Linked DNA regions of Homo sapiens: all the other regions are linked to region 3. The links come from fine-mapping of genetic effects on gene expression. A gene starts in region 3. Each other region holds a variant in brackets. All regions are shown on one strand. Distances are from middle to middle.

Region 1 (8,162 bases), 93 kb after region 3:
GCAGCTCTGAACTGGGCATGACCTTCACAGGTAAGGGGAGCGCTGCAGCCACGCAGGTGGGCCAGGCTGCAAGAGGGGACTTTGAGAGCTCTTGGCTGGCTGCTGCCTGCCATCTGAGAATGTTGAGTTATCTTAGAGGGAGATGGGGAAGGAGCACGTTCGCTGGGATCATTGTTGGCTGCACGCATACTCCTGTCTCCTGGACAGGTACCGGATGTGTAGCCACTACTCTCTAAAGGGGGAGGGTTGAGGCGTGGGATGACACGTCCCCCACAGAGGGAAGAATGCCCCTGTGCACATTGCATTTATTCCCATGGCTAGAAAGCCAACTTGTGTGACCCCTTGGCCTAGCTAACCTGGGTGTCTAATTGAGCCTGCCTGTGCTGACGGCTGCAGCCCTGCCCATGCTCCTGCCCTAAGCCACCCGGCAATCTTCCCCCTTTCAACCCCTGCAGGCGTGGACACCATGGCCAGCTACGAGGAGGTTTTGCACCTGCTGCGCTATCGGAACTGGCATGCCAGGTCCTTGCTTGACCGGAAGTTTAAGCTCATCTGCTCAGAGCTGAATGGCCGCTACATCAGCAACGAATTTAAGGTGGAGGTGAGTACAAGGCTCCCACTGAGCAGGGCCAATAGCAGCAGTGAGTGAGGGCGCTGATTTGCAGCCCTAATATTCACAAACGCCAACCTCAGAGCATTCATGATGGCAGCTATACAGGCTCATTCTAGGGGGTCGCCTTTCCAGCCTGGGGCCTGCTGCAGGTTACACCTGGGCTTGTTGGAGTGACAAGTTGTGTTTGGGGTGAGCTGGGGTGGGGGGTGCTCCCCTTTCCCTGGCTGCCTCAGCCTGAGTTGGAGCCTAAGGAACTTTGCAGGGAGGTGACAAAGAGCAAGTGGCAGTTAATGCCTCTGGGGCTTCTTGAGATTTCCCATGAGAGAAACAGGAGGATGTGGTTTTATTTATTTATTTATTTTTAGAGACGAGGTCTCACTATGTTGCCCAGGCTGGTCTTGTCCCCCCAGGTTCAAGCAATCCACTTGCCTTGGCCTCCAAAAGTGCTAGGATTACAGGCGTGAGCCACTGTGCCCAGCCAAAGACACTGTTTTAGAAAGAGCAGCATCCAGGGAACCAAAAGTTCTCTGCATCTGTGCCAGGTCACTGGCCCTCCTGTGAATGAAGTCGAGTCCTCGGCCCAGGTTGAGAGGGGCTCACGCAGGGACCCGCACGGGCAGGACCAGTGCTGCTGAGGCTGGCGCTGGTGACTCACAGGCCACACAGGCTAGAGGGTAGCTCCTCCTGCTCTGAGGTCGTCTACAGACCTATCCAGCAGCTGCTTCATCGCTCAGGCTCTCTGTGGCCTGGAGAAAATTGACCCAAAGTTACTCTTAGCAATGGAATATCACCATGAACTCAAGAGCAGAATGCTAAATTCGGTGCCTGTTTTGTTTGAGTCAAAGGGTAAGAGATATGAAAGGAAATCCATGGCAGTGATTGGTGCTGTCTTTCACACGGCTGTGATTTGAGGAAAAAGGTCTACGCCAGTGCTTCCCAAACGACCCATGGGGAAGGACCATCGGCTTCTTTTTCTGCTCTTGTTTTGGGCATAATCTTTTATAAAATGCAATAAAAATGGATTGCAGCCAGGTGCGTGGTGCTTGCCTGTAGTCCCAGCTACTTGAGAGGCTGAGGTGGGAGGATTACTTGAGCAGGGAAGTTCCAGGCTGCAGTGAGCCGTGATCATGCTTGTGAATAGCTACTGCGCTCCAGCCCGGGCAACACAGCAAGACCCAGTCTCAACAAATACTAATAAGTAGAAAAGTGATACATTTCTGGAATGTGTGAGAATATTAGATTGTTATAGCAGTTTCTAAGTGCTTATTACTCTTTTTTGTTTGGTTTTTGTTTCTTTTTCTTTGTTTTTGTTTTTTAAGTGCTTACTCTTGATTTTTTTTTCTGTCCTTTTCCCGTAGCTCCGTTTGCCCCCAGCTGCGGTCCAGGAGCCACTCTGAGTGGCACTGGTCATGCCAGCTGCGGGACTCCACTGTCACCTCTTGGACAGGCTCAGGATGCCTGTCTCCAGCGATCCTCTCTTTCTCTGCTATAGGTGAATGTAATCCACACGGCCAACCCCATGGAACACGCCAACCACATGGCTGCCCAGCCACAGTTCGTGCACCCGGAACACCGCTCCTTTGTTGACCTGTCAGGCCACAACCTGGCCAACCCCCACCCGTTCGCAGGTAGGACATGGGGAGGGAGACCAAGCGGAGATGCTCCATGCCGTCCGCCCTGCCCCCACCCCACCGTGGGCACAGCCTCCTGCTCAGCATGACCGCCGGTCTTTCCCTGTCCCAATTATTCCCCATCACACACAAGGAAACTAAAGCCCTCGAAGAGGGCAGATGATGTCACCCGCAGCCATGGAGCAGGACGTGGCCGAGCCAGGTTGGAGGCCCATGGCGAGCTTTTCCTGGTATTTCCTCCTGGCCTGTGGGTTCAGCTGAAGCGTGCTGTCCAGCCCGTTTTGACCAGGCACAGCCGAGGAGGTCAAGGGCACAGTGGCCTTCTGGGCCGAGTGACCTCGCATCCCGCCCCCTCATTCTCCCACAGTCGTCCCCAGCACTGCGACAGTTGTGATCGTGGTGTGCGTCAGCTTCCTGGTGTTCATGATTATCCTGGGGGTATTTCGGATCCGGGCCGCACATCGGCGGACCATGCGGGATCAGGACACCGGGAAGGAGAACGAGATGGACTGGGACGACTCTGCCCTGACCATCACCGTCAACCCCATGGAGGTAGGAGTGGGCGGGCGACCTCCAGGACTGAGAGGCAGCACAGGCCAGGGCCTCCGAGAAGCCGGTACGGCGCGGCTCCTTCAGGTTCACATGCTTTCCATCGCGTCATCTGCTCAGCAAGCCTGGGGCTTAGGTGTCTTCGTGGGTAAACCGAGGCTGAGAGAGACCTTATTCAAGGCCGTTCTGCCTTAAGTGTAGAGAAGAGCCATGCCAGGGCTTGGCGCTCTTGGGTCATGGTAATCCTGAGAGAGTTCTCTGGTGGGGCAGCTGAGGTGCTGTCCCAAGCTGCTTTGTATGTGGGTGACTCCGTGGGTGCTGACTGGAGCTTTGTTTTCCCTTCACTTCTAATATAACTTCCGGTGCCGTCCTGGCTGCTCTGTCGCTGGGGAGGGAGACGCTGGGGCAAGTTCTCCTTCCTCTGTGGCTGTCGAGAGGAGAATGCCAGGTGACGGGGCTGTGGGCAGGGCCGGACTCATGTGGCCGTCACTTCTCCTTGCCAGACCTATGAGGACCAGCACAGCAGTGAGGAGGAGGAGGAAGAGGAAGAGGAAGAGGAAAGCGAGGACGGCGAAGAAGAGGATGACATCACCAGCGCCGAGTCGGAGAGCAGCGAGGAGGAGGAGGGGGAGCAGGGCGACCCCCAGAACGCAACCCGGCAGCAGCAGCTGGAGTGGGATGACTCCACCCTCAGCTACTGACCCGTGCCCCCGGCCACCTCGGTTTCTGCTTTCGAAGACTCTGCTGCCATCCGTTCTCCCAGTCCCAAGGGTCCACGATGTACAAAGTCATTTCGGCCAGTAGGTGTGCAGACCCCTCCCCGCCACGATCGTCGCTGTGCTTGGTGTGTAGGACCCTAGGCTCCCCGCCCACCCTCTGCCTGGTCGCGCTCTTCAGTCCCACGAGGAGCTGACACGTCCTCTCTGGCCGCCATCCGGCTCGCACAGGGGCCTCCCAGCGCCTCAGGCCCCGCGTTTGTGTCTGGAGTCTCCCCCCGGGGAGAGGACACTGGCCCCTCGCACTCCAGAAAAGCCATGCCAGCTGGGCTCGTTGACAAAGGGTAAAACATGCTCACTCCCACCCGGTAATCATTTTTTTCTTTTTTTAAAAAAAGTTTTTATTTTTTCCAAACTAGTGCATGTATAAATAATGGCAGGATGGGGGGTACTGTGTAGATGATTAACTGACTTTTTAATATTTTGTAAATAAATCGGATTCCTTGTGTCCTTTGTGCTAGTGTAACCCGGGACTGGAATGTAAAGTGAAGTTCGGAGCTCTGAGCACGGGCTCTTCCCGCCGGGTCCTCCCTCCCCAGACCCCAGAGGGAGAGGCCCACCCCGCCCAGCCCCGCCCCAGCCCCTGCTCAGGTCTGAGTATGGCTGGGAGTCGGGGGCCACAGGCCTCTAGCTGTGCTGCTCAAGAGACTGGATCAGGGTAGCTACAAGTGGCCGGGCCTTGCCTTTGGGATTCTACCTGTTCCTAATTTGGTGTGGGGTGCGGGGTCCCTGGCCCCTTTTCCACACTCCTCCTCCGACAGCAGCTCCCTGGGCAGTGGCCTGGTCTCACCGTGTGCAGCCTTGTGGTTTATGCTTAAATGTACATTTTCCTGCTGGTAAAAGGAGAAACTGAGAGGTGTCCTGCAGACCGGCTGACCACTCCTTTTGGAGACGGCAGGAGGCCTGAGCGATCCGTACTCAGAACGTCCAGGAGAGACGCATGGCCCGAAGTCAAAGTGCTGGAATTTTCCAAAACAGCCTGTTCTCTCCTCTCTCCTCCCCAGAGCACCCCCTGCCATCAGGGGGGTTGAAATCCCTCTCCCCCAGGAGCCCTGCTGCTTTGCTTGGTGGTAGGGCAGGAGAGCAAACAAACAGTCATGGTCTAAAACCCACATAGCACTTTGCTCTTAGTTACATGTAAAATTTTAGATTTCTAAAACAGGTGGGCAATCATTTTGAATACTGTTCTGTGACCCTGACTGCTAGTTCTGAGGACACTGGTGGCTGTGCTATGTGTGGCCATCCTCCATGTCCCGTCCCTGTAGCTGCTCTGTTTAGACAGCGGACAGACGCTCACGCCCAGGGGATGTCCTCACGCTGTCGCCGCGCGGTTTCCCTTCGCAGATGTGTATACTCATGATAGGTCAGAAAGTGTATCC[G/A]CTACAATAAAGTTCTGGTTCTAACTAACTCCAGCCGGAGCGGGGTTTGTCTTCTCTCCTGTTTTGGTTTTAAACCTACACTCCCTTGTTTCTTTTTGAGCCGAGAACATAAAAGAACATAAAAAGGCTTTTTCTTTCTTTTCATCTGCCTTTACTTCTCATTTCAAGGTTTCACAGAGTGCTGGTCTCAACCCACATCAGTGATACTTAACTAACTTGCCTTCCCCAGACAGAAACATGAAATGACTTAAAAAAATAGAAAATATTCTTCTCGCCAGGCACACAAGACTGTACACCCAAAACCAGAAACGCTGTGGCTTTGCAAAGTGTGCTCCCACACCCGCGCACACAGGCGCACTTAAATAAATAACGCGCACGCACGGCTTTCCCCATTTCGAAACAGGCAGACGGTCTAGTGAGTTTCAGCACTTGCTGGGAACAGGCGTGTGGCCAGGGAGGTGCCCCGCGGGTGGCAATGACTACTGACGGACCCCTGGTGAATCAGAACAGAGCTGGCACCTGAGCCGCTGAGCGGGCGGCTACTTCTGGCTCTGTTGAGTTTTGGAAGACCTTTGAGAAATCAACAGCATCACCGGGCAGGTCCTGAGTCCATGGCCTGATATGTTAGGATCACCTGTGGGCTGCTAAAAGCCCACAGTCCTAGCCCCATCTGCAGAGTTAGTTGGCTTCTGAAGGCTGGGAGAAGCCCTAGAACCTGCATTTCTAAAGCTGCTCAAATCCAGGCCTTTGGAGGCTTAAGACTAAGCCTGCACCATTTCAAACTAAGTATAGTCAGAGAGAAAGATCCCAGCACGCCCCCTCGTTCTCACACTTCTGGTACCTCAGCACTCTCACAGCAGGTTCCCAAAGGTGATGGTTCTGGAAGAGTTCTGGCCTCATCCTTTTGTTAAAACCTGCTTTCAGAGGTGGCTTAGACAATGGCAGAGTGGGCCGGGCGCGGTGGCTCATGCCTGTAATCCCAGCACTTTGGGAGGCTCAGGCGGGTGGATCACCTGAGGTCAGGAGTTCGAGACCAGCCCAGCCAACATGGTGAAACCCCCGTCTCTACTAAAATACAAAAATTAGCTGGGTACGGTGGTGCACACCTGTAATCCCAGCTACTCAGGAGGCTGAGGCAGAAGAATCACTTGAACCTGGGAGGCGGAGGTTACAGTGAGCCAAGATTGCACCACTGCACTCCAGCCTGGGCAACAGAGGAAGACCCCATCTCAAAAAAAAAAAAAAGATTTTTGAGATAATGGCAGAGTATTCGCTTCTGACCTGCTTTTGCCTTCATGCGTGACCGGGGTGAGCTACATGAGGCCCAGATCTCTTTAACACGTCCTGAGGACCAGCGTAGATTCTCCTTTATGGGGCTGGGCCTGATCTCCCCAGCCGTAGAGGTGTGGTGAGTCATCTATTATTTTCTTACCTGCAAACAAAATCACTTTACAGTAGAGAAAGATGAGGGAATTCTCGTACCCAAGACCCACTTGAAAAGTGGAGAGCAAGCATCCCTGAATCTAGAGGGTACCCCGGCTGCCTCGGGGAGCTGCCAGAACTCAGTCTAGGGAGGATACACAGGGTGGGTCGCACGAGGATCAAGGCATCCTGTCGGACAGTAGGCACCAGGTGACCGCCAGGCGCCAGGACCCAGGCAGTCTGGCGGGAGGCCTGGGAAGAAGGTTCCCTCGGGAGGAGAACAGTCTTTGCTGGGCCCAGATCCACCAGCTGGAAGACTTGGGGTGACAATCCTCAGCCGAGAGCCAGGTGCAGCCTCGGGGGGCCCAGCACCGCCGCTGCATGAAGGAGGCGTTTCCGTTTATGGCTGTTTAGCTCCTTAAACTATTTCAAGTCATAAATAAATAACCAGTGTAAACAAAAGGCAGCCATGTCGGTTCTTTCCCGTTAGGTGCAGTTCAGGCTCTTCAGCCCCTTTAGGACCAATGTGCTTGGTCCCCACGACCCGCAGCCGCCTCCTCTTGGGCCCAGGGCTGGGAGGAGCCACTACTGCCTGTTGTCTTTGGACACGTTGTGGGCCAGCCAGTTCACTTTGGTTTTCCAGCTCTCACGGAGGGCTTCGTTAAACTTCACTCGGAAGTGCTTCAGTGCCTCCTCCTCTGTTTTCCCCAGTGCCAGGGAGTCCTGCAAACAAATCACAGCGGTGTCCACGTTAAGGGGGCCCGGACCTTGCTCTGGGATGCGTCCCTCTCTGGGGACTTCAGAGTCACTGAATGAAATGGTTAGTAGAGAGCTCCCAGCATCTCAGGAAAAGCTCTCTATTCCGCTCCCACCCTCAAATGAAGGTGCCAAAGACATCTTGGCCCCAGAGCCCCCAGTTCCCAAGTGACCTCGCCTCCCCTACTGGAGAAATGGCTCTGGGAGGAGCATGGGAGCAGCTGCTTTTGCAGGGACTGGTCACCAGAGGGAAGGTCCTGGCAAGCATGTGTGGCCCCAGCAGCCTCACCGCCCCATCCCACCTTCTCACATGGAGAGGACACAAGAAGGAAAAAAAATACATATGTATCTGTATATATACATTTTTTTGAGACAGTCTCACTCTGTCGCCCAGGCTGGAGTGCAGGGGCATGATCTCGGCTCACTGCAACCTCCGCCTCCCAGGTTCAAGTGATTCTTCTGCCTCAGCCTCCCAAGTAGCTGGGACTACAGGCAGCCGCCACCACACCTGGCTAATTTTTTGTATTTTTTAGTAGAGACGGGGTTTCACCGTGTTAGCCAGGATGGTCTCGATCTCCTGACCTCATGATTCACCCGCCTTGGCCTCCCAAAGTGCTGGGTTTACAGGCCTGAGCCATCGTGCCCGGCCAATTTTTTCTTTTTGAGACAGAGTCTTGCTCTGTCACCCGAGCTGGAGTGCAGTGGCGCGATCTAGGCTTACTGCAGCCTCAGTCTCTCGTGTTCAAGTGATTCTTCTGCCTCAGCCTCATGAGTAGCTGGGATTACAGGCATGTGCCACCATGCCTGGCTGATTTTTTGTATTTTAAGTAGAGATGTGGTTTCACCATGTTGGCCAGGCTGGTCTCAAACTCCTGACCTCAGGTGATCCACCTGCCTCAGCCTCCCAAAGTGCTGGGATTACGGAGGCATGAGCCACCATGCCCAGCCTGGAAAAATATCTTTTATTTATGTTTATTTTTATTTTATTATTATTTTTTGAGACGGAGTTTTGCCTTTGTTGCCCAGGCTAGAGTGC
Region 2 (8,179 bases), 53 kb after region 3:
TGCTTCATGGATTCAGATAATTTCAACATTACTTATTCTGGAATTTAGAATTTCATCTCATTTGGGTCTTGATACCAAATTTTGCGACAGAACTGTGAGCACTGTCTTCAAGCCTAATGAGAGTTTTATTATTTTAATAGCAGGTGTGTGTCTTCAAAAGTAGTGGAGTTGAAAATAATATTTCTAACCTTGTCTATTTTTTTCTCTTGTTTTAAACACAGTTAACAAGCACAAGCCCTGGCTGGAGCCCACCTACCACGGCATAGTCACAGAGAACGACAACACCGTGCTCCTCGACCCCCCACTGATCGCGCTGGATAAAGATGCGCCTCTGCGATTTGCAGGTAGGAACGGGGCTTTCATTGACTCTTGATGAATCGGGCCTGGTCAGGAAGCATTCTGCACATCCCATTTGGGTAATGCTGAGCGTTTCTGAAAATGTCTCCATAGCTGAGGGTTATTTGTAGCGTCCTTTGTAGCATGTTTTTTTTTCCTTTTAATAGTTGGGGTAGCTGACAAAAAGGCCTGTTCTTATAGTTGAAAAACAAACTGTTTAATTTAATTGCATAATTTTTTTCTTTATCTTAATGTAGCCAGATAACTCCTAGACCAGTGCATCCCTGGCTCTAGGGTGCACACGGAGTACCTGAGGAATGTAGAGACAGCGGGTCTGGGAGGACCTGAGATTCTGCCTTTCTCACCTGCTCCTAGGTACTGCTGGTGTTGCTGGTCCTCAAGTGGCATGGAGCCGGAGAATCACAGCGCCAGGGGTTCCTTGCATTACCTAGATTTCAATGACCTGAGAAGACTTACTTGAAGAAGTTGAGCGGTCTTTATAGAGGAATGCTTTTGGCATAGATTTTACCTTCAGTGAATTTTAAAGACATGAGATTGTAGCCTCAGTCTTTATAGAGACAAACCTGTAGCATTGCTTTGGAGATTTTCATACTGTAATAACCGTGTACATTGCTAACACTTAATAGCATTTTCCAAGTCAGAGCTGTTCTGGCTTCACGTTGGGTCCTTAACTGGTAGAGAATGGGCTGCGCCACCTTTTTTCTGCCTCAGAGTTGGAGTTGACATTGTAAAGTTAATTTTTAAGAGTTGTTTTCGCATATTTTTCCAGATCAGATCTTCTCCTGCACGGCTGGGCACAGTGACATGCCTGTAATCTCAGCACTGTGGGAGGCTGAGGCAGGAGGATTGCTTGAGTCCAGGAGGTGGAGGCTGCAGTGAGCCTTGATTGCACCACTGCACTCCAGCCTGGGCAACAGAGCAAGACCCCATCTCAAAAAACAAAACAAACAAAAACTTCTCGTATTAAAGAGTGTTCTGGCCGGGCACAGTGGCTCATGCCTGTGCCAGCACTCTGGGAGGCCGAGGCGGGCGGGTCACAAGGTCAGGAGATCGAGACCATCCTGGCTAACACGGTGAAACCCCGTCTCTACTAAAAAAAAAAAAAAAAAAAAAAAAAAGCCGGGTGTGGTGGTGGGCGCCTGTAGTCCTAGGTACTCCGGAGGCAGAGGCAGGAGAATGGCGTGAACCCAGGAGGCGGAGCTTGCAGTGAGCCGAGATCGCGCCACTGCACTCCAGCCTGGGCGACAGAGTGAGACTCTGTCTCAGAAAAAAAAAAAAAAGTGTTCTATTTGTCTAGGGACAAATAAGAAAAATTGGATGAATTTGTATGAAACATATGTTAATTTTACTATAGTAAGTTGAAGGAAATAAACATGAGTTTGTTTCTGAAGAACTATTTGAAAAATAAATTTGTACTTCATTCTGTTTAGGCGCCACATCACATTTTCAGCACAGTCACCCGTGAACCAGCTTGTGCTGTAAAGATAGAGCCTCCCAAGTTGTTTTGTGTGTTTATTAATTTTCAGAGAGAATTCTGATGAAAAGGACAGTAGAGGCAGTACCCCATGCCGTGAACACACACACAGCATTTGTCCAGTTGCCAGGGTGATTATTTTTGCTTTTTCCCCCACATTTTTTTTTTCTCCTGAAACAGTCTTGCTCTGTCACCCAGGCTGGAGTGCAGTGGTGCAATCTCAGCTCACTGCAACCTCTGCCTCCCGGGTTCAAGCAGTTCTCCTGCCTCAGCCTCCTGAGTAGCTGGGATTACAGGTGCCTGCCACCACGCCCAGCTAATTTTTGTATTTTTAGTAGAGATGGGGTTTCACCATATTGGCCAGGCTGGTCTTGAACTCCTGACCTTGTGATCCACCCGCCTTGGCCTCCCAAAGTGCTGGGATTACAGGCTTAAGCCACCATGCCCGTCCTAATTTTTGTATTTTTAGTAGAGACGAGGTTTCACCATGTTGTTCAGGCTGGTCTCGAACTCCTGGCCTCAGGTGATCCACCTGCCTTGGCCTTGCAAAGTGCTAGTGGATAGATCATTTTAACAGAATTATTTAGTTTATGTTTTTGAGCAGTTTTATATACATTACTGATGTTTTACGCATTTCAAGAAGTGATTGCAGTCCAGGCTTGTGTATTTGCTCCCTCAGGTCCTCCTTTGCCTTTTGAAGTATCAGCAGTCCTGTTGTTCGTGCAGTGTGATCTTACTATGTTGTTAATAATTGATGCACTATTTTATTTTATTTTGTTTTGTTTTATTTTTGAGACGGTGTCTCAGTTTGTCGCCCAGGCTGGAGTCCAGTGGTGCAATTTCGGCTCACTGCAACCTCCGCCTCCCAGATTCAAGCAATTTTCCTGCCTCAGCCTCCCATTAGCTGGGATTACAGGTGCCCGCCACCATGCCCTGCTAATTTTTGTATTTTTATTAGAAACAGGGTTTCACCGTGTTGGCCAGGCTGGTCTTGAACTCCTGACCTCAGGTGATGCGCCTGCCTTGGCCTCCCGAAGTGCTGGGATTATAGGCGTGAGCCACCACACCCAGCCAATAATGCATGCACTTATAAAGCATGCATAGCAATGTCCCAGGCACTACTCTAAGTACTGTACAAATATAAATTTGTATTTAATCCCCAATAACCATAAGATAATAAATACGCTTTTCTGCATTAAAGGCAGGAAGCGGAGGCACAGAATAGTTAAGCTATTGCTCTGGGCGTGTAGCTGGTCGGGGGGTGCAGAGGCAGGGCTCCAGCCCAGGCGGGACAGCTGCCTGCTACGATGACGTAGCTACATCTTTAACTGCACGAAGTTCACAAGGAAGTAGGAAATGAAATGTACGCCGAGTGTTAACTTTGAAAGAAAAAGTCTTATCAATGAAATATTTTTTTCTTACTGTATTTAATTTTATTGTGTATTTCTCAAACTTAAGATATTCTAGATGAAATAATACTTATACAAGTTTATTTTTTAGAGATTCTCAGGTTTTTTTTACTGATGTACAAAAATTATATGTTGTGATATGTATTTTAACTGTATAGAAAAGCAATTTAAATCCAATTATAGTGGTAACTTGGTTGTATTTGCCATAGTGGATAGATAAGTCAATATTTTCCTTTTGGATATTTTCATGGGGGAAGCACAGTTACTCATATAATATTTTTTCTTTCTTTTTTCTTTTTTGGAGATAATTCATATGCCACAAAAATCACCCTTTTTTTTTTTTTTTGAGACGGAGTCTCACTCTGTCGCCCAGGCTGGGGTGCAGTGGCGCGATCTCGGCTCACTGCAAGCTCTGCCTCCCGGGTTCACGCCATTCTCCTGCCTCAGCCTCCCGATTAGCTGGGACTACAGGAGTCCGCCACCGCGCCCGGCTAATTTTTTGTATTTTTAGTAGAGATGGGGTTTCACCGTGGTCTCAATCTCCTGACCTCGTGATCTGCCTGCCTCGGCTTCCCAAAATGCTGGGATTATAGGCGTGAGCCACCGCGCCCTGCCAAAAAATCACCCTTTTAAAGTGTACAGCTCATTGAGTTTTAGAATGTTCCAAAAACCATGCACCTGCCAACCACTGTCTAACTCCAGAACATTTTCATCACCCCAAAAAGGAACCCTTGCACCAAGTGGCACTCATCCCTCAGTCTCCTTCACT[C/T]CCAAGCCCTGGCTACCACTACAGATTTCTCTATTCTGGATAATCATGTAAATGCACTGTACGGCTTTTTGTGATGGGCGTCTCCCAGCATGGTGATTTCACAGTTTACCTGTGTTAGGTGCCTAGCAGCCCCTCATTCCTTTTTTTGTTGCTGGATATTATTTCATTCTATGAGTAGATCACATTTTGTTTCTCTGTTCATCCACTGATGGACATTTGAGTTGCTTCTACTTTTTGGCTATTATGGGTCATGCTGCTGTGAACATTCCTGTACAGGTCTTTGTGTGGACATAGGTTTTCAGTCCTTTAGTATACACACAGGAGTGCAACTGATCCCCTTGACTGAAGCGTGGGGTCCTCTGCTGGAGGAGTGGGCAGCTGCATGGGGGGGAGGGAGCACCTGACCTGCAGCCGTATCCCTCCTTACCTCCCTCCCTCCTTCCTTCCCTCCCTTCCTCCCTCCCTCTCTCCCTCTCATTTCCTTCCTCTCTCTCTCCTTCCCTCCTTCGCTTCCTCCCTCTGTCCTTTCCTTCCTCTCTCCCTCCCTCTCCCTCCCTCCCTTTTCCCCTTTCTCCCTCTCTCCCTCATTCCCTCCTTCTGTTCCCCCCTCCCTCACTCCTTCCATCCCTTCTTCCCTCCTTCCCCCTTTTCCTCCCTCCCTCCCTCCCTCTTTCCCTTTCTCCTTTACTTTCTCCCTGTGTTGCTTCCTCCCTCCCTCCCTCTTCTGTTGCTTTGGTGCCACCCAACACAGAACCCCACCCCCGTGGTGCCACCCAACACAGAACCCCGCCCCCATAGTGCCACCTAACACAGAACCCCGCCCCCATGGTGTCACCCAACACAGAACCCCGCCCCCATGATGCCACCCAACACAACCCCACCCCCATGGTGCCACCCAGCACAGAACCCCACCCCCATGGTGCCACCTAACAGAACCCCGCCCCCATGATACCACCCAACACAGAACCCTGCCCCCATGGTGTCACCCAACACAGAACCCCGCCCCCATGGTGCCACCCAGCACAGAACCCCGCCCCCATGGTGCCACCCAGCACAGAACCCCGCCCCCATGGTGCCACCCAACACAGATCGCCAACCCCATGGTGCCACCCAGCACAGAACCCCACCCCCATTGTGCCGCTCAACACAGAACCCCGCCCCCCTGGTGCCGCCCAGCACAGAACCCCGCCCCCCGGTGCCGCCCAACACAGAATCCCGCCCCCATGGTGCCGCCCAACACAGAATCCCGCCCCCATGGTGCCGCCCAACATAGAACTCCGCCCCCATGGTGCCGCCCAGCACAGAACCCCGCCCCCATGATCTTGCCCAACATAGAACCCCATCCCTATGGTGCTACCGAACACAGAACCCCGCCCCCATGGTGCCGTCCAGGACAACCCCGCCCCCATGGTGCCACCCAGCACAGAACAGGACCCTATGAGACTGAGCAAGGGAGGTCAGGAACAGAGACCCTAGAGCCGAGGGACCAGTGAGTGAATCGTAGCTCTGCTACTTATTGGCTGTGTGGCCTTAGGCAAATTACTTACCCTTTCTGTGCCTCCATTTCATCATTTGTAAAAGGATAAGATGTCACAGACCTCATTAATGTCACAGACCTCATTGGTTTGGGGGAATGTTAGCTTCTTTATTCATACGTGTGAAGAGCTTTAAACAGTGGGTGGTACAGTAATTACCACCTACAGTATTTGCCGCTGCTGTTATTACTACTAATAGAATCTTTTAAAAATATTTTTTCACTTAACATTTTGTGAGAAATATTTTTTCATCTTTCTACAAAAGTCGTTATAGTGTTGCATTTTCTTACAGACTTTCTTAAGTATTTTTTGGATAAGACAGAGGCTAGACCTGGAGCCTTATTTTCATCTTAGATTGATTTGGGTGATGACATTGAGTTTAATTTCGCACCATGTTGAGGAGGAGGGTGGTGATGGTGGTGGCATCTAACGTTTATTGAGTGCCTGCAGTGTGGCAGAGGTTGCTCTGAGGGCCCGGTGTGGGTTACTTTCTCCGATTCTTTTCAGCAGGTTTTTTTTTTTTTTTTGAGATGGAGTCTTGCTCTGTTGCCCAGGCTGGAGTGCAGTGGTGCTATCTCGGCTCACTGCAACCTCCGCCTCCTGGGTTCAAGCAATTCTCCTGCCTCAGCCTCCCGAGTAGCTGGGACTACAAGTGCATGCCACCATGCCTGGCTAATTTTTTGTAATTTTTATTAGAGACGGGGTTTTACCGTGTTCCCCAGGCTGGTTACGAACTCCTGAGCTCAGGCAGTCTGCCCGCCTCGGCCTCCCAAAATGCTGGGATTACAGGCGTGAGCCACTGCGCCCAGCCTCTCTTCTCCAATCTTACGCAGTAGACATGCCCACTGTCCCTGTTCTCCAGGTGAGGAACCAGGCTCAGCGTGTCTGCCAGCTGCGTGACAGCAGGAGAAGCTACTTTGTTTTCCATTTTATCCCCAAAACCTCCGTCAGTGCCTGGAACACAGTCACTCCATAGATATTTGTAGAGGGAGGAGATGAGTTTACCCAGGATCACACAGCTCATAAGTGACAGAGCCGCCTCTGGGCCCAGCTCACTGTGTGAACATTCCAGTTCATAGTGTGATCCCACTACAAGGCATGTGTGTGTGGGTAGCCACAGGAGTTCACTTGTTAGAGCTCTGAAATGAATGCACATGCAATGCTGGGAGCTTAGTCATTGAAGCTCCTTGTAAGTCATCACTAATCAGACATTCACAATGAAGATCCAGTCTCGCCCGGATTGTTTCCTTGGGGTGAAATTCTGATACAGAGTCTTGGTATTTGTCAAGTGTTTTAGGAAATTTAAATGATTCAGTTTCTTGTTCTGCGCCTTCTCTTTAATCTGCTGAAAGCCTGAGTAGTCATGGGTCAGAAAACAATTTTTGTATTTTATTATTTATCTATTTATTTTTGAGACAGGGTCTCGCTCTGTCACCCAGGCTGGAGTGCAGTGGCGCGATCTCGGCTCACTGCAACCTCTGCCTTCCGGGTTCAAGCAATTCTCATGCCTCAGCCTCTCGAGTAGCTGGGATCACAGGCGTGCACCACCACGAGCCAGCTAATGTTTTGTATTTATAATAGAGACGGGGTTTCACCATGTTGGCCAGGCTGGTCTCGAACTCCTGGCCTCAAGTGATCCTCCGCCTTGGCCTCCTAAAGTGCTGGGATTACAGGCGTGAGCCACCGCGCCCGGCCTATTTTGTTTACATTTTATATATTTCGTGGAGAGTTACCAGCTTGAGCCTCATGTGTGGGCCACAGGGTTGGGGCCTTGAAGATGATGCATTCTGTTCTTGTCAGAAGCCGTGCCTCCTCTTCTTGTTTCCTCTTCAGAGCTCCTCCTTCTAGGAGGTGGTGGTGTTCTAGCAATCTCTTTCCTGCTTTTCCAGATTAAGTATGGATGTTTTACAAGATTGGTTGAACCATAATGATACAAATAGAATCCAAAAGAAGTTTCAGGGCAAGAATGGGAACTTAGTTTTCATTGATAGTCAGTTAGAGCCCACCGAGGAGCCCTGTGATACTCTTGTCTGTATTCTTTGTTATGAATGTGATTCACATGCCCTGAGGGTGGCCAGTGGGGTTAACTGCTGCATTTCACTGCCCAGTTTTGCTTTTTTAGCACATGTAACTGAGCTGACCTTGTGCTTGCAGCAGTGAATTGGTTGACCTGCATGAAATTGCCTTTTTTTTTTGAGACAGAGTCTCGCTGTGTCGCCCAGGCTGGAGTGCAGTGGCGCGATCTTGGCTCACTGCAACCTCCCGGGTTCAAGCGATTCTCCTGCCTCAGCCTCCTGAGTAGCTGGGATTACAGGCGCCCGCCGCCACCACGCCCGGCTAATTTTTGTATTTTTAGTAGAGGGAGGGTTCCGCTTTGTTGGCCAGGCTGGCCGCAAACTGCTGACCTCAGGTGATCCACCTGCCTCAGTCTCCCAGAGTGCTGGGATTACAGGTGGAGCAACGGCGCCTGGCCTCCATTTTTTTTTTTCTTTTTTTGAGATGGAGTCTCCGTTTCCCGGGTTCAAGTGATTTCGGCTAATTTTTGTATTTTTAGTAGAGACAGGGTTTCACCATATTGGCCAGGCTGGTCTCAAACTCTTGACCTCAAGATCCCCCTGCCTCAGCCTCCTAAAGT
Region 3 (8,179 bases):
GTATCAGCAACAGTCATCTCAGAAGGTGCAGCATCTTGGAAAATTTTCTTGTGTGCGCTTCATCTACTGTCTCAGATAGAGTCACTATACATTCAAAAGTACAGATCTTCCTCCACTAGCTAACAAAGTCACCTCCTTATCCTCAAGTCTATGTTCCCAGTTCAGGATGGGCCTGGGTGATGCCTCATTCCCCATGGCTCCAGGGCCTCTGATGCTGCCACTTTGTCAGTGGCTGGCTCAGCTCAGGCAAGGCCCCTCTCCCAGCTAACCATAGCATAAGCCTGAATCGATCCCTGTCTCAGGGCCATTTGGAGGATTAACTAATCCATCATGGGGGAAACCTTTGAAATGTGCCAATGTGGCTGAGGCTATTGTCAGGCAGAGCAGAAACTGAGTTTACTGGTTCCCCCGTTTCCGAGACTTTCAAGCTGGACTCACTCTCATGTGGGTGAAATCCCAGCAGGTGCAGGTTGCACTGAGCTCACCAAGCCGTCTATCTGCCCCACCTGACGCTGGATCTTTTTGACCTATCTCTGTTTCTTTAAGGGACAGTAAGGGTGAGAAGATAAAGGGATCAGGATTCCAGACACTGAAGAGCTTTTGTTTGTGTTTTTAATAGAACTGAACACATTAAATTTCCCCTTTTGGCATCATCAGTCTATGGACTGAAAACATAGTTCTGAGATTATACCTTTCCGATTTTATGTTTTGCAAATCTCGAAGGTCCCTGGAAATCTACAGGGTACATCTTTTTTCACCCTCTGAGATGTGAGCTCCATAATAATAAAACCTAACTCAGCAATTCATTGAGTTCATCACTATTTATTGAGTACCTACTCTGATCGCTGGTATACTAGAAGCACAGAAGCCTTCTTCTTGAAGGGAAAAAGAAACTCATGTATCTAGAAACACCAGGCTCTATGTGGCACTTTCATTTATTTGCCACATAAAGCCTGGTATTTCTAGATCTATGTGGCATCATTTCATTTAATTCTCACAACTCTAAGAAGTACATATTGTTCCATTTCGCAGGTGAGGAGATTCTGAAAGTTCCATAACCTGGCCAAGGTCGTTTGCATTTGCAGAGGCCAGCACTGAAGTCCAGTCCCGTCTGACTAGACCATCTGGGTCCTTCCCACTAGAATACAGTGGGGAGGAGAAAAGGACACTGATGGATTAGTCAGTCGACAGCACAGGCAGCAGATTATAAAGCTGAACTGTTTGGTTAGAGCAGCTCGGGGCTGGAGAGGGAGGGCTGGCAGGAGGACTTCCTGAAGGAGACAGCCCAGAAGCTCCTTGTAAGGACCTGAGGCTTGGGTATGGGTGGAGGAGGAAGTGTGATGTTGGCCCTGGGAGGGGAATGAATAAGAAGAGACAGTGGCAGACAGCATGCCCTGAGGTCAGCTGGGTGGAGGATGGGAAGCCCAGCAGAGATGTCTGGACCTGACGAGGTGGCAGCAGGGAGGCACTCACTGAGTTTATAACTCCAGGAGGGGCAGAAGCAATGGCAACACCCGTCACCAGGGGAGAGGATGACTCAAAGCCTTGGCTGGAAGGAGTGGTGGGTGTGGCTTGGAGCCTGCCCGGGCCAGGCAGGTGCTTTGGGAAGGGTCCAGCCAAGGAGAGTCCGGTCTTCCTCCACGCAGGGGAGGGGGAGCAGGGGAAGGAAGGAGAGACATTAACAAGATGGAATCTGTAGGCTTTGGTGCAGGACGCTTACGGGGAACACGGCTCAGGGAGTTGGATTCCAGATTGCTTTTGAAGCCTTCCCCAGGTCACATCACACCGCTGTTCCCAGCCGTTCCAGGTCTTCCTGTTGACTGTAGGATCAAGTCCATTCCCCCAATCTGACCTCAGTCTACGTTTTTGGGCTCTTTGCCCACTAGTCTCCTAAATAAGTCCTCTGCGCCCCACAAACCAGTCTCCACCCAGCCTCCAGTGCTGCCAGCCTCCTCCACCCCCACCTGGAGCAGTGACATTCATGGATAGCTCCTCCAGCGGTCTCGAAAAATGAACATTTTAGGGTTCCACTTTTTGCTGTTGGTGTCCCCCTAATGCGAACATCCTGTCCTTGAGGGCTGATTCTTTTTACAATAGTTGTCCCAACGGGGGAAGTCATTTCACCTTTCTGACTTAGTTTCCTTATCTGCAAAATGGAGCCAGTAGTGTCTCATAGGGTACAGTGCCTGCACACACGCCCATCCACGGCTGTTCCAGGCCTTTCCTCCACTGCGGGGGGGTGCCAGGGGTCCAGAGGCGAGGAGGAGGGGGCCGCTGGACGCTGGGAAATTGGGAGGACCCCAAGATCCCTGTAGGGATCCACGGTAGAGGGGGAGGGCTTCTCTGTCCTCTCTATCCATTCGGACCTCCGCATTTCTAAGAACCAGCATCGCACCATGTCACTGAGAAAGAGCGCGCACACCAGCCGCCTTTTGAAAGTCACAAATAGATTCCTTCAGTGAATTCAGGACAGACTCCCCGGGGGCAGGTCCCGGGGCGGGAGCCGGTGTGGGTAGTGCTGCGCGGCCCTTAACTGTTTACCAGGCGCGTTTCGCTGACCTCGTCTCCTGGACCCCCTTTCGTGACCCCTCTCAACACCTCTACTGGGGAGACGAGGACCCCGAGGTTCTGGGGGGCGACGCGACCTGCCCGAAGTGACAAGGGTCCTGGGCCGCACTGCTCCGCCGGGGTCTGCGCTCCTCGGCGGAGCGGGTGGGAAGGATGAGTCCTCGGGGTGGAGAAGGAGGAGCGGGTCCCCGGGTACCGCTCACCCGGCCTTAGGAGCCCGGGAGCGCGCGTAGGGACGCGGAGTTGAGGCTCTCCATCTGCGGCCAGGGAAAGGGATACAGTCCCCCGGGCCCCTCCCGGCCGCTCGGAACCCACCCCAGGCGCGTCCCCGCGGGCGCGCGCTCCAGGCGGGGCCGACGGGCTCGGAGGCGCGCGCCCGCTGCCGGGTCCGCCGCGCGCGCTCCCTCCGCTCCTCTCCCCCGCCCCTCCCGGGCCCGCGCGCTCCCAGGGTCCGCCGCGCGCGCGCCTCGCGTCGCTCCCCATCCCCGCCCCTCCCGCCGCCACCCCGCCCCCGGCCGGGTACCCTCGCCGGACCCGAGAGAGAGCGCCGCCGCCATCTTAGTTGCTGCCGCTGCCTTCAGCAAGACGCTGCTCTGAGGCGGGGAGGGCGCCGCGTCCTGAGCGCGCGGCCCAGCGTCACGGCGGCGGCGGCGGCGGCTCCTCCTTGGACCCCCGGAGCTCCCCGCGCCGCGGAGCAGCTAGCCCCAGGCCCCTAGAGCCCCGAGAGCTCCGAGAGCTCCGCTCGGCGTCCCGCGCGCCTCCCTGCCGCTCCCGCCCCGGGCTGGCGATGCTGCGCCGCCCCGCTCCCGCGCTGGCCCCGGCCGCCCGGCTGCTGCTGGCCGGGCTGCTGTGCGGCGGCGGGGTCTGGGCCGCGCGAGGTAAGCCCCGGGGCTGGGCCGGGCCGCTGGGTCGGTGCGGGATTCGGGTCCGGGTGCAGGATTCGGGTCCCGGTGCGGGGATTCGGGTCCGGGTGCGGGAGTAGGGCCGGATGCCGGGATTCGAGCCGGGATGCGGGGAGTCGGGTCCGAGCGCAGGGAGCCGGGTCAGGGCGTGGGGTTCGGGTTGGGGGTCGGGCTCGCGGAGCCGGGGCCAGGGCGCAGGAGACTGTGGGCGCGCGCTGCAGGCGTCCCGGGGAAGCCAGGCTCCGTCCCGGGCGGGGCTCCTGAGCCTGGGCTGCCCCCACTGCAGCCCATGGTGGTGGCTGCGCTGATTTGGGGGAACGTGCAGACGGGCCGAAGGGTCAGTCCGCCCTGCTCAGCGGCGCACGCAGGCTGGGGCTGCACCCCTGGGTGAGATGCTCTGTGTACGTGTGCTCAGATGTGCATCAGGCGGGGGGTGCACGCACAGTTTTGGTGTGTGCTTACATAAGAGCCCACTCCTCCGCATCCCGTTTCCAAGATCCCGATTCTGTGTTGCTGCACCGCGGACACCACGACTTCGCCCCTTTCCGCCTCCTCCCAGAGTCCTTCAGACGTTGTCTGTTTCCAGTGGAGCCGAGGCTGAAACTTAGTGCTTCCCTCCCACCTTTTCACCCAAAGGTGAAATCGCGATGAGATTTGCGACCGCGGGCTCACCCAGTGTTAGAAATCTCCGTCTCTGCTACCCCTGGTGCCTTGGTGCTGTTTTTCTGACGGTCATTTAGACCGTGGAGGGTTAGATGTTCTCTACAAAAACGAGAAACCTCTCTGGTTTTTTAGGATTGTAGGACCGAAATTATTTTATGGCTCGGTGGGAAGTAGTATTTCTTGGCTAATTTATTATTAGCTTTTAACCTTCATCCACTTAACCTTTTAAACCTTGCATGCCTCTGCTATTGACTGGTCTTGCCAACGAAAAGCTTACGCATTGCAGATACAGTATTTGCTTCTGAGTGGATCTTGAAATCGTAAACATTTTCCTTGGCCTTAGAGCAGAGTAATCTAGGTGTAGTCTGTAGAATCTACTGTAGGCTTAAATCTGTTGTTCTGATTTTTTTTTAATCAAAAGAAATTTTGGGGAGGAGGATTGATAGAAATCTAGATGAAATGGTCATATTTGAATTTAGCAAGCTTTTTAAAAATTCTTATTTTCCCTTCCCTGGCGTGACATAAGGAGAGAAGTATGGTGTTCACGAATTAAAGGGCAGAGGCGGCAAATGCATCTTTTGTTCCATGTTCCTTTCTAAACATCGAGGATGATAAACTTTGAATACTTCTTTTATTTCATTTCTAACATTCTGTTGACTCTGTCAAATTCAGATCTTAGTCACTAAGTATCTCATTGCTGGCCATTTGATTTTTAAAAGTAACATCAAGCTAAGTTTGAAATGTTCTTTCCAGATGTGGGTTGGAGGTCTGAAACTCTAATATATCCAAGAGAAATGTCAAAAGTTTTGCTTCTCTTGGGGAAAACCCACACATTTTAAAAATATGTGCTTGGATTGGGTATTTTGGGAACAGTTTAAGTATATTTAGTCAGTGATACCATTTCTTGTTAAAATTGGTGCTTTCTTAAATAGCACCTACATTTGTTAGTCATTATTTAATTGCCTTGGTTACTTAAACAGCATACATTTCAACTTTGAATATCTTCATTACCTGAGACCGACAGAAATCTTGTGTGAAAGGTGTGTTGGCTAGTTGAGTCATTTGTAATTTGCTTTCTCTAAGTTTTTCTTGGTGCAGTTACAGTAGTTCAAGATTCTTAGTCTTCGGAATAAAGACATTTTACACATCAGTTATTCGTATGCATTTTTTTCAGGTTGCAAGTTAGAAAATGTCTTGGAATTACACGAAATGCTAATAAACAATTTCATTTTGAAATATTACAAGTGAATTTCATATGTAAATTTACAGTTTGGAGACACTCTGTGGGCTCGTTTTAAGAGATCATTTCAACTAATTGAATTTTTTACGGCTGTAAGGCAGTACGACATGAACTCCTGTTCATGCTGTAGCTACCTTTAATCATTGTTAATGTTAGATTACGTACAGACTGCTGCAGAAAATGATAGATTTTCTAATATAAATTGCATCTTGACTCTTAGTTTTGTAGAGACCCTCAAATTTTATTTTAATTATAGCTGTAGTTCTCAAAAAACATTGAGTAGAGCTGGGTGCAGTGGCTTGCGCCTGTAATCCCAGCACTTTGGGAGGCCGAGGCCAGCGGATCACCTGAGGTCAGGAGTTCGAGACCAGCCTGGCCAACATGGTGAAACCCCATCTCTGCTAACTATATAAAAATTAGCTGGGTGTACTGGTGGACGCCTGTAACTCCAGCTACTTGGGAGGCTGAGGCAGGAGAATTGCTTGAACCCAGGAGGCGGAGGTTGCAGTGAGCCGAGATTGCGCCACTGCACTCCAGCCTGGGTGACAAAGCAAGACTCCATCTTAAAAACAAATTCAGTAAGCCAAAATATTAGAAGAAATATCTTTGGCATGCCCTGGACGGTCATGTCCTTCAGCTACCTGCCTTCTTCATGGAGATCGGGAAATAGAACAGTGAAGCAGAGAAAATAGAAAGCTTATATGAATATTTAAAAAATGCAACCATGTAATGCATTTCGAAGCCACTTAATACATAAAATTCACTGTTACTTTTCCATTTGCACATAGGCTTAGTGAGACCTCCCCTCACCATCCTATTTGAAATAATTTCTCTTCCTGAACCCCTAAATCCTGTTTCCCTGCAACACTTTTTCTTTTTGCATAGCACTTAGCCCATTCTAACATGCCTTGTTGTTTACTTATTGAATTGTTTATCGTCTGTTTCCCCTCAGTAGAACATATGCCCCAAGATGGAAGGGTATCTGCTTTGCATATGTTTCCCGTCACCAGCACACCAGAGGCATGCCAGTATTGTGTGATTGAATGAATGAATGGGTGGATGGATAACAGCATTTCAGTTTAGACAGCGTAGTAGCTTTGCATCCTAATTTTCACTTTACAGATAAATGCTATATACTGAAAAAAATTACATAGTGTAAAGCAAACTTAAGTTTTTTTTTTGTTTGTTTTTGTTTTTGTGACAGAGTCTCATTCTGTCACCCAGGCTGGAGTGCAATGGCGCGATCTTGTCTCACTGCAACCTCCGCCTCCCGGGTTCAAGAGATTCTTCTGCCTCAGCCTCACCAGTAGCTGGGACTACAGGCATATGCCATCACACTGGGCTCATTTTTGTATTTTTAGTAGAGACAGGGTTTCACCATGTTGGCCAGGCTGGTCTGAACTTCTGACCTCAAGTGATCCGCCTGCCTCTGCCTCCCACAGTGCTGAGATTACAGGTGTGAGCCACTGCACCCGGCCCAAACTTAAATTCTGCAGTGTCGATATGGGAATTCATTAGTGGGTAAATTTTCAAGGATCATGGGGCCAGCCTCGGTGGCTCACCCCTGTAATTCCAGCACTTTGGGAGAACTAGGCAGGCAGATTGTTTGAGCCCAGGAGTTTGAGACTAGCCTGGGCAACATGGTGAAACCTTGTCACTACAAAAATACCAAAAAAAAAAAAAAAGTTCAAGGATCAATTCTGTTGGTTGCAGTATTGGGGATATTAGATCATGAAACTCTGTCTCAGCCTTTGAAGGCTGTAGCTCTGTGGCTACCCCTGTTAGTCCCTTTAAAAATACTATAATTTTCAGCTTTTTTGGGAAGATGGTTTCTTAATTTGTTACCTCGTTTTTTCAGAAGTAACGATGTGGAAAAAAGTCGTTCGAATATAGACCTCAGTATTACCCATAGTCTAACATTTTTAATACTGAAAGTAAATAACATTTATTTCTCAAAGGAGACCTATAACTGCTGAAGAAATAATAAAATACGAACAATTTTGAATATATTCCAATTTTAGAGCATTCACTCGGTTAACTGGAACCTTCAGTTAGCTGGAATTCGTCCTTTGGCTGGATATTTCTTTTGGGAGAAAAAGCATGAAACCAAGCAGTTTTATAGGAATTATTTTTCAAAAGGAAGGTTTAGGAGGTCATAACATACATTATCTGTGCCAGTATTTGATATTCAAGCCAAAAACGCAAATAATATTTCAGTTTTAGTTATGAAGAATATGACCAAAAAATGAAATTTTTGTGGGATATAAAATATTACATTGAAAATAGAAAATGCTGTAATTTCGTAACACTAGCTGCAGGACTTAGTGAAGCTTATTAAACCAAGTCTAAATGTTTAAAATGAGGAAGCTGAGATAGGTTAAAATTTTAGAACAAAGGAAAAAAAGTACTGAGTTATTTTTATTATTGCTTTCTGAGACAGGAAAGTATGTTTTTTAATTTTTTTGGGTAGTTTTCATTTATAAGAGTTGAAACAAAATAGAGATCTGATTATCCTAAAAAACCGCCAAGAGTCTATTTCTTATGTATTCTGGTTGAGGGCTTAGATCATTAAAACTTGTTTTTTTAGTGGGTCTTAATTTGGTGTGAAGACTTGCTTGAAGGGGCCGGGTGCGGTGGCTCACACCTGTAATCCCAGCATTTTGGGAGGCCAATGTGGGTGGATCACGAGGTCAGGAGATCAAGACCATCCTGGCTAACACGGTGAAACCCCATCTGTCTCTACTAAAAAAAAATACAAAAAATTAGCCAGGCGTGGTGGCAGGTGCCTGTAGTCCCAGCTATTCGG

Evidence for each region.
Region 1: its variant is fine-mapped to the expression of CLSTN1 in whole blood (TOPMed, PIP above 0.99).
Region 2: its variant is fine-mapped to the expression of CLSTN1 in whole blood (INTERVAL, PIP above 0.99).

Annotation. Positions count from the first base shown.
Region 1 is chr1:9,725,840-9,734,001 of GRCh38, reverse strand. It overlaps PIK3CD (phosphatidylinositol-4,5-bisphosphate 3-kinase catalytic subunit delta), which reads right to left. Exons shown (of 24, transcript NM_005026.5): 24 at 4,888-7,093. The coding sequence ends at 6,956. CLSTN1 (calsyntenin 1) reads left to right here. Exons shown (of 19, transcript NM_001009566.3): 15 at 1-30; 16 at 456-601; 17 at 2,106-2,241; 18 at 2,612-2,796; 19 at 3,297-5,076. The coding sequence ends at 3,494. Among named protein-coding and RNA genes, the nearest start is that of PIK3CD-AS2, 42 kb to the right of the region's middle. The variant G/A (reference allele first, on the strand shown) is at 4,949.
Region 2 is chr1:9,765,437-9,773,615 of GRCh38, reverse strand. CLSTN1 (calsyntenin 1) reads left to right here. Exons shown (of 19, transcript NM_001009566.3): 2 at 222-344. Among named protein-coding and RNA genes, the nearest start is that of CLSTN1, 54 kb to the left of the region's middle. RefSeq lists a silencer at 5,399-5,599. The variant C/T (reference allele first, on the strand shown) is at 4,010.
Region 3 is chr1:9,818,910-9,827,088 of GRCh38, reverse strand. CLSTN1 (calsyntenin 1) reads left to right here and starts at 3,124. Exons shown (of 19, transcript NM_001009566.3): 1 at 3,124-3,446. The coding sequence starts at 3,356. RefSeq lists enhancers at 1,414-1,473, 2,534-3,250 and silencers at 2,863-2,922, 2,943-2,992, 3,163-3,312, 3,323-3,402.